Homo sapiens: one gene and its partner. The protein of the gene in region 1 purifies or fractionates together with the protein of each later gene. This does not show direct contact. Each region holds a gene or a part of one and is shown on either strand. Other genes may lie near its edges.

Region 1 (4,798 bases):
AATGTGCAACAAACAGAAATAACGGCATTGACGTGGGCCATGGAAAGGCCTAAACAGATGACTGCAGTTCACTGCCAAGGTCATCAAAGGGGTGACTCTGAAATAATAAATTTCAGACGCCACGGCCCAAATAGCTGCATGAGGTGGGGAAGTCCTCCACATGCCTCTGCTTCCTTCGGTACCTGTTTATGAAATCAGCCGAGGTACTTCCCTGGGGAATTTCCTTTCTTTCTTTCTTTCGAGACGGAGTCTTGCTCTGTCGCCCAGGCTAGAGTGCAGTGGTGCAATCTCGGCTCACTGCAACCTCTCCCTCCTGGGTTTTAGCAATTCTCCTGCATCAGACTTCTGAGTAGCTGAGATTACAGGTGCATGCCACCATGCCCAGCTAATATTTGTAGTTTTAGTAGAGACAGGGTTTCACCATCTAGGCCAGGCTGGTCTTGAACTCCTGACCTCGTGATCCACCCGTCTTGGCCTCCCAAAGTGCTGGGATTACAGGTGTGAGCCATCAAGCCCGGACTTTTTTTTTATTTTTTGAGACGACGTTTCACTCTTGTTGCCCACGCTGGAGTGCAATGGCACGATCTCAGCTCACTGCCACCTCCTCCTCCCAGGTTCAAGCGATTATCCTGCCTCAGCCTCTCGAGTAGCTGGGATTACAGGCACCCAACACCAAACCCAGCTAACTTATTGTATTTTTAGTAGAGATGGGATGTCACCATGTCGGCCAGGATGGTCTTGAACCCCTGACCTCTAACGATCCACCTGAATTGGTTTCCCAAAATGTTGGGATTACAGGCACAAGCCACTGCGCCCAGCCCCTCCCATACCTCTTTTGGCCAAGGCAGCACAATTCAGAAGAATCTTGCCAGGGAAGACTGGTAAATGGACGTCAACGTGATGCCTATGGCTCCTGGTGGATTTAGATACCTCCTGGTGCTTATTGATATCTTTACCAGTTGCACAGGGGCTTTTCCATGCCAGACTGAAAACGCAGAAGATCAATGATCAACCTTCAACTATTTACTAGCAGAACACTGAGGGGACTGTGCGGTCACCAATACCTCCTATTGCACTTGGATAAACACCTCCCAGGAAATAGAGATGAATAGAAAGGACATAGTCAAACAAGCAGAATGGCTGCATTCCTTCAACCAGAAGGGTCCATTAGTCTGTTTTCACACTGCTATAAAGAACTATGAGAAACTGGGTAATTTATGAAGAAAAGAGGTTTAATTGACTCACAGTTCTGCAGGCTGTACAGGAAGCGTGGCTGGGGAGGCCTCAGGAAACTGACAATCACGGCAGAAGGCGAAGGGGAAGCAGGCACGTCTGGCCATGTTGGAGCAGGAGAGACAGAGAGAGTGAAGTGGGAGGGCTGCACGCTTTTAAACAACCAGATCCCACAAGCGCTCACTCAATATCACGAGAACAGCAAGGGGGAAGTCGGCCCCCATGAGCCAATCACCTCCCACCAGGTCCCTCCCACAACACTGGGAATTACAATTTGACATGAGATTTGGGTGTGGATACAGAGCTGAACCATGTCAAGGGTAGTTCAACCGCTGAGATTGATTGATTGATTGATTGACTGAGATGGAGTCCTGCTCTGTTACCTAGGCTGGAGTGCAGTGGCACAATCTCGGCTCACTGCAACCTCCGCCTCCCGGGTTCAAGCGATTCTCCTGCCTCAGCCTCCCGAGTAGCTGGGACTACAGCACATGCCACCATGCCTAGCTAATTTTTGTATTTTTAGTAGAAACAGGGCTTCACCATGTTTGCCAGGCTGGTCTTGAACTCCTGACCTCGTGATCACCCTGCCTCGGCTTTTCTTTGCTGTGGCTCTTTCCCCTCTAAACTGTTCTAGATTCCCAGGCGCCCTGCTAGGAACAGGTGTGGGCCACCCTGGGGTGAGCTGCCTCCCAGAGGCCTGGAAGGACCAGGCCTTGCCAATCACCGACAAGGGACGTAGAAGAGCACCCCCAAAGGACAGTAGGTCCCCGCCCGGATCTGGCCCACAGCACCCGAGGGACCCTGCAGCACTACAGAAGTCCCATGGGGCAGACGGGAGCCACAGGCCCAGACTCCACAGCCCCTCAGTCCACATGTCCTGGAGCCTGTGGTGGAAGTCCCTGTTCTTCCATCACCGCCGCCTCTCCCTGAGGACCTCCGAAGAAACAGGCCAGGGCTGTCCCAGGCCTGGGCACACGGGCCAGTGTCCAGCCCACCCCGTCTGCCCCTCCAGGCCCCGCCCTCACCCGGAAGCGCTCCTCCAGCAGGGACAGCTCACTGATGAGGTCGGTGATGGCGTTGGTAAAGGCTTCCTGGGGGCTGTAGTCCGGCGTGGTCTGCACTCGGATGATGATCTTGTGCTCCAAGGGGTGGGGGACTTTGTAGCCAGCAAATAGCACTTGCGGGTCTTTTAGGAGTTGTCTGAGGTCCAGGGACAGACAGTGTGAGGGTCTAGCCTCATGCCCAAGCTGGGTAGCAGCCAGCTCAGAGCAGAAGAACAGACTTTCTAGCCAAAAATCCCCCCCAACTTTTTTCCCAAAAAGTCTTCAAGGAAAGTAACACTTTTAGGAAGATACCTCATGTGGGGACACCCTATCCCCGCCACACACACACACTCTGCATCCATGAGGTTGAAGGACCCGAGCTGGAAAGAGATTCCAGCAACCTCTTCCCACCGGGCACCGCAGTGCTGGCAAAGAGATCTCCCAGGCAGTGAATGTCCAGCCAGTGTTCAGTGACTCAGACCCAAAAAGCCCACAAAGAGCATCCACGCAGCAAATAAAGGCAGCAGGAGAGGAGGGCCAGCTCCCGGCAGTGAGTGGAATGCAAATGGAACTCTGCCCTCCGAGCAGCACAGCCGCCAGCGGCTGGCCACGCACACTGGGCCTTGTGCCATGGGGCTGCGTCGCGTACTGTGCCCTGGGCACGCAGGGGTCTCCTCTAGAGCGGCTCAGAGTGGCGTGAGCACCACAAGGGGGACCCGTGCATAGGTGGCAACACTGAGCTCAAGAGCAGGGGAGCAGCAGGGCCCCAGGAGAGCTTGGGTGCCCCACTGGCTGGGCTCCAGGCAGGATTCCTCCATCCCCGTGCCTGACCACACCAGGAGACTGGGCAGACCCCACTCACAGACGGGGAAAAGCCTGGCTTCGCTGGTGGCACCAGAGGGAAGAGCCAAGTCTACAGTAAAATGGCAAGTCCCTGGGCCAGAATGGCAGACACATCCCTGACCAACCACCTGGCTAGGACCTCACTGGTATAAACAAACACCCACCAACCAATGCAGGGTGCCCATTAGGGGCACTGGATAGCCACAGAACTCCTACTTCTTTCTCTTGTTAAATAGAAGTTCTAGTCTCTGCCACATACATCTTAGAGGCCCAGGTGGCACTGAGGTCACAAACGGGTGGCATGAGGGGAGCTAATCTTGACTGCTTTTCAATGTCCCTCAGCATGAATAACAAACAGGCCTACTGTGCTGGAATCTGCTGCTCGTTCATTTACAGAATGTGCACTTAATGGTGAATGTAAGGCCGGGCGCAGTAGCTCACGTCTCTAATCCCAGCACTTTGGGAAGCCAGCAGGTGGATCACCTGAGGTCAGGAGTTCGAGACCAGCCTGGCCAACACAGTGAATCCCCGTCTCTACTAAAAACACAAAAATTAGCCGGGCATCGTGGCGTGGGCCTGTAGTCCCAGCTACTAGGAAGGCTGAAGCAGGAGAATCACTTGAACCCGGGAGGCGGAGGTTGCAGTGAGCAAGATCGTGCCATTGCACTCCAGCCTGGGCAACAAAGAGAGAAAATTCCATCTCAAAAACAAACAAACAAAAAAACAGTGAATGTAAATGCACGTGTTCATCTACAGAATAAGCCACTACAGAAGTGTGGCTTATGTGAAGACATGGAGGTCGGTGTCATTTTGATAAAAAGGTACCAAGATTATAAAATGCCCAGAGCAAGCCCCCAGAAGGACTTCCTGTAGCTCAGAGAGACTGAGGAAGACTTGGAACTTGTGCTTTGCCCAGAGGGGCCCATTAAACATAGCCCCTGAGAGCCTGTGACGGGAAACTTACGATTTAATGATGTTTCCCAGTGTGTGGTCTTCTTTGTTGATGGTGAATAAGCAGGCCTTGGGTACCTTGGTGTCCTTGTTAATGGTGATCCTAGGAAGACACAGAGGCCACAGATGAGGAGCAGGGGCTCCCCTCCTCCCACCCTGAGTCTAAACCCTGTCTCCTCCCGGCCAGGTGTGGTGGCTCGTGTCTGTAATCCCAACACTTTGGGAGGCTGAGGTGGATGGATGACCTGAGGTCAGAAGTTCAAGACCAGCCTGCCCAACATGGCAAAACCCTGTCTGTACTAAAAATACAAAGAAAAAAAAAAAATTAGCTGAGTGTGGTGATCCATGCCTGTAGTCCTAGCTACTTGGGAGACTGAGGCAGGAGAATCACCTGAACCTGGGAGGTGGAGTTGCAGTGAGCCGAGATCATGCCACTGCACTCCAGCCTGGGCAACAGAGTGGAACTCTGTATCAAAAATATAAAAATAAAAAGGAAAAATAAGCTCTGCCTCTTCCTGAAGGCCTTTCTCAATCTCTTCATCCCATAAAGGCCTCGCCAACCCGGTCCCCTACTTCCTGCTACCCCAGGTCTATGGAACCTTGGCCTTTTCTGAATTCCTCCTTTTTTTTTTCCGGTAGAGATGGGGTTTTGCCTTGTTGTCCTCGCTGGTCTTGAACTCCTCGCCTCAAATGATCTCTCCTGCTGCCCAGGCTGGAGTGCAGTGGTG
Region 2 (3,500 bases), on another chromosome or scaffold:
GATTTTGAACATTTTGAAAAATAATGTGAAAAGTTCACATGGATTTCTTCACTTAAGAAATTTGGATTTTTAAGATATTTTATCCAAGAAATACAAATTTTTGTGTAGAGGACACAGAGGCACATCATAAAGAGGAAGGTTGAGATTGTGGGTTTAGAAGACCAAACTACCTTACTCCCACCTAATCAGTGAAGTCAGGGAAAAAATATCAAAGCTAGACCCATTTAAATACTGATTTGCGGTAAATGTGTCACAGCAGTTTCAGATGCAAATAAGATGTTATTACAAAGTTTTAAGGGTCTGTTAAGTCACTCTGCATGCATATCCTTAGAACCATTTCACACTCAGCAACATGAGTTTTTGTTCAACTCAACGTTGCACTTTAGCTTTAAACTTCCCGTGGTGGAAATTATTGTTCTTGTAATTAGCCCAGTCATAAATGACATTTAAAAATTGCTATCTTGGTTTTTCTTTCAAAAAGAACTTGAAGGTTTTTTTTTCCCAGAGGTATGAGGGCTGTGTTGAACTTTTCAACCTGCATTTTCTTATTTTAGCAGAAAACATGGAAAAGTGTGTCAGTCATTATTTAAGGGTTGTGAATATGAAGTTTTATTTTGTAGCAGTTTGAAAATACAGAAAACATTTCACATTAACCAAGGCATAAAGAAGAGTGAAGACAAAACTAATTATGGTATAGGAGTTTTTTGTTGTTTGTTTATGAAAGCTGTTGGGTTTTTTTCTCATTATCAAAGTTAGACCTTTTTTGGTTTTTTATTTGAACCAACCAATTGTAAAAAGTGTTTATTTCAGAGTATCAGAGGAAATAAAATATGTTGTATATTAGATGACACTAAGGAATTGTTAATTTGGATGGTTATGATCATTTTATTGTGATTATATAAGAAAGTGCCTTTGTATTTAGAGATAAAAATGGAAACAGTTAGGGGTCAAATGACATGACGACAGGGATTTACTTTAAAATATTACTACAAAATAAGAAAAAAATGTGCCAGGTGTGGTGGCTCATGCCTGTAATCCCAGAACTTTGGGAGGCTGAGGCAAGGGGATCACCTGAAGCCAGGAGTTCAAGACCAGCCTGGGCAGCATAGTAAGACCACATCTCTACAAAAATAAAAATAAAAATTCGGCCGAGTGCAGTGGCTCACACCTGTAATCCCAGCACTTTGGGAGTCTGAGGCAGGCAGATCACAAGGTCAGGAGATCAAGACCATCCTGGCTAACACGGTGAAACCCCATCTCTACTAAAAATACAAAAAAAATTAGCCGGGCGTGGTGGCGGATGCCTGTAGTCCCAGTTACTCAGGAGGCTGAGGCAGGAGAATGGCCCGAACCCAGGAGGCGGAGCTTGCAGTGAGCCAAGATCGCACCACTGCACTCCAGCCTGAGCAACAGAGTGAGACTCCATCTCAAAAAAATAAATAAAAATAAAAATTAATCGGGTGTTGTGGGGCTACTACTCAGGAGGCTGAAGTGGAGGATCGCTTGAGCACGAGAGTTTGAGTCTGCAGTGAGCTATGATTATGCTCGTGATTAAACTGTTCTCCATAGTGGGTGTACTAATTTACATTCCCACCAACACTGTATGAGGGTTCCCTTTTCTCCACATTTCTCACCAGCATTTGTTATTGCCTGACATTTGGATTATGCCACTGCACTCCAGCCTGGGTGCTGAAGGGAATGAAAAATGAAGCAAAGGTAGCAAAAATTAAGAAATTGAATCTGGAAATAGATATACGGGATTATTACTATTCTTTCTATTTTGGAACATGTGTGAAACTTTTTATACTATCACACTGGTCTTAAAAAGAAGCTTAAAAAAATAAAGTAACACATACTTTAGAAAATGAGGCAGTACAAAATGGTTTAAAGAAGGAAGTAAAAATTACCTGTAATCCCACCACTCAACAATAACTACTATTAATATTTTGATGTATATCCCTGACATATATATGGCATATGTATATTCATTCTATTTGGTTCTCTCTGTGGATAAACCTAGAAGGAATGAAATATGCTTGATATATATGAAGTACAATGGTATTATATAATACATGTTTTTATAAAAATAGGATAATACTATGTACATTTTTCACTTCACATCTATCATGAATATCTTTTTATATTAAAAAATAGATTCACATTATTTTAAATGTCTTATTCTATTAAATGGGTATAGCATAATTTATCTAACCAATCACCTATTGATACACATTTGTTTCTGATTTTTCACTACTAAAGCTATTTCTGCAACAAGCATATTTTTTATGTTCATCTGATTATTTCCTTAGATTAAATTTTTTTCATAGTAAAACTGTTGGGTCAAACACATTTAAACTGTTAATATATATTGTCAAATTGCTTCCTAAAAAGGTACTAATTTTCACTCCCACCATGGGGATTTAGTAAGGAAGAATATACCACACTCTCAGATTGGACCATTTTGGGGGCAGTTGTGTTCTTTCCATCTTGGTCTAATATTTGAAAATAAACAGGTAAGTAAAACTAGGGACAAGAATTTAAATAGCTGCCAAAATGATTTTGTGTTTCAGTGCTTCACACTCAGTAACAGACTACAAAGTGGAGTGTGGGGTTACTATGAATGTTTCCTTATGAGTTCTCACCAATCATAACCTAGGTTAACCTTTAAATCATGACTGCTTCCATCTAAATGCCATTATTAGCTATGGAAAATTCAGATCTAGGCATGACCCAAAAAAAGTTTCCATATAATTTTGTTTTAAAATAAATGTAATTTTTAAATTTTCAGGTTGCCTGGGCTTCTGGTTCCTCTTCAGATTACATTGGGAGATATTTACACACAACTTAAAAATCTTGTTCGAACTTTCAGGTTAGTGTTTATATTACAATTATCCTTCTCAATTATTTTGACTTTATTTATTGCCTTGCAGAATCCAAAGGCACAGAGAAAGTAAGTGACTTACCTTTCAATGTCACAGATCTAAATACAGTATTCTATTTTCTCCTCCACTAAACAACATTATTTCTCTCTTCTATTGAATGCAACCTTTATTTGCTCAAGCCATTATATATTTCACTTTGGATAGTTTATTTACGGAATAGCCTAAAATTGAGAAGGAAAATTATATCTATGATGCAAAGCCAGTAATACTATGGGTTTAAGTGAAATAGTAAATATATATTGGCTGACCCACACTGCACCAGGCACTATGGGTAATGTAAAAGAAACATAGTGCCACCCTAAAGGAAGAACTCTCCTCTGTGAAGATCATGTGAGTACAGTAAACAGTACAAGACAGTGGGCAATTTAATATTGAATTACACAGAACAGACTTAAAGTGCTAAGAACTATAAAGAAAGGGAGAATAGAGAATTGATATCAATTGTGAGTGAAACTGTTGTGATTTTTCCTAAAACTATCAAGATAAAAATACTCACTCAGGCTAAGACTAGGTTCTCTCTACCAAGAAGCATAGCAATAAGCCTCTAAATGGCTTATT

Evidence for each region. Proteins that work in one complex are often made in the same cells at the same time.
Region 2: the proteins of POLR2J2 (region 1) and RPAP2 purify together in Homo sapiens (co-immunoprecipitation; one large-scale study listed by IntAct). This does not show direct contact.

The regions. Positions count from the first base shown.
Region 1 is NC_000007.14:102,664,832-102,669,629, forward strand, and holds the end of POLR2J2 (DNA-directed RNA polymerase II subunit RPB11-b1), read right to left. Parts: intron 4,174-4,798; coding exon 4,084-4,173; intron 2,434-4,083; coding exon 2,259-2,433; intron 1,333-2,258; coding exon 1,300-1,332; 3' UTR 1,215-1,299; downstream 1-1,214. UniProt on the Homo sapiens protein: DNA-dependent RNA polymerase catalyzes the transcription of DNA into RNA using the four ribonucleoside triphosphates as substrates. Component of RNA polymerase II which synthesizes mRNA precursors and many functional non-coding RNAs.
Region 2 is NC_000001.11:92,333,559-92,337,058, forward strand, and holds part of RPAP2 (putative RNA polymerase II subunit B1 CTD phosphatase RPAP2), read left to right. Parts: intron 1-2,788; coding exon 2,789-2,869; intron 2,870-3,500.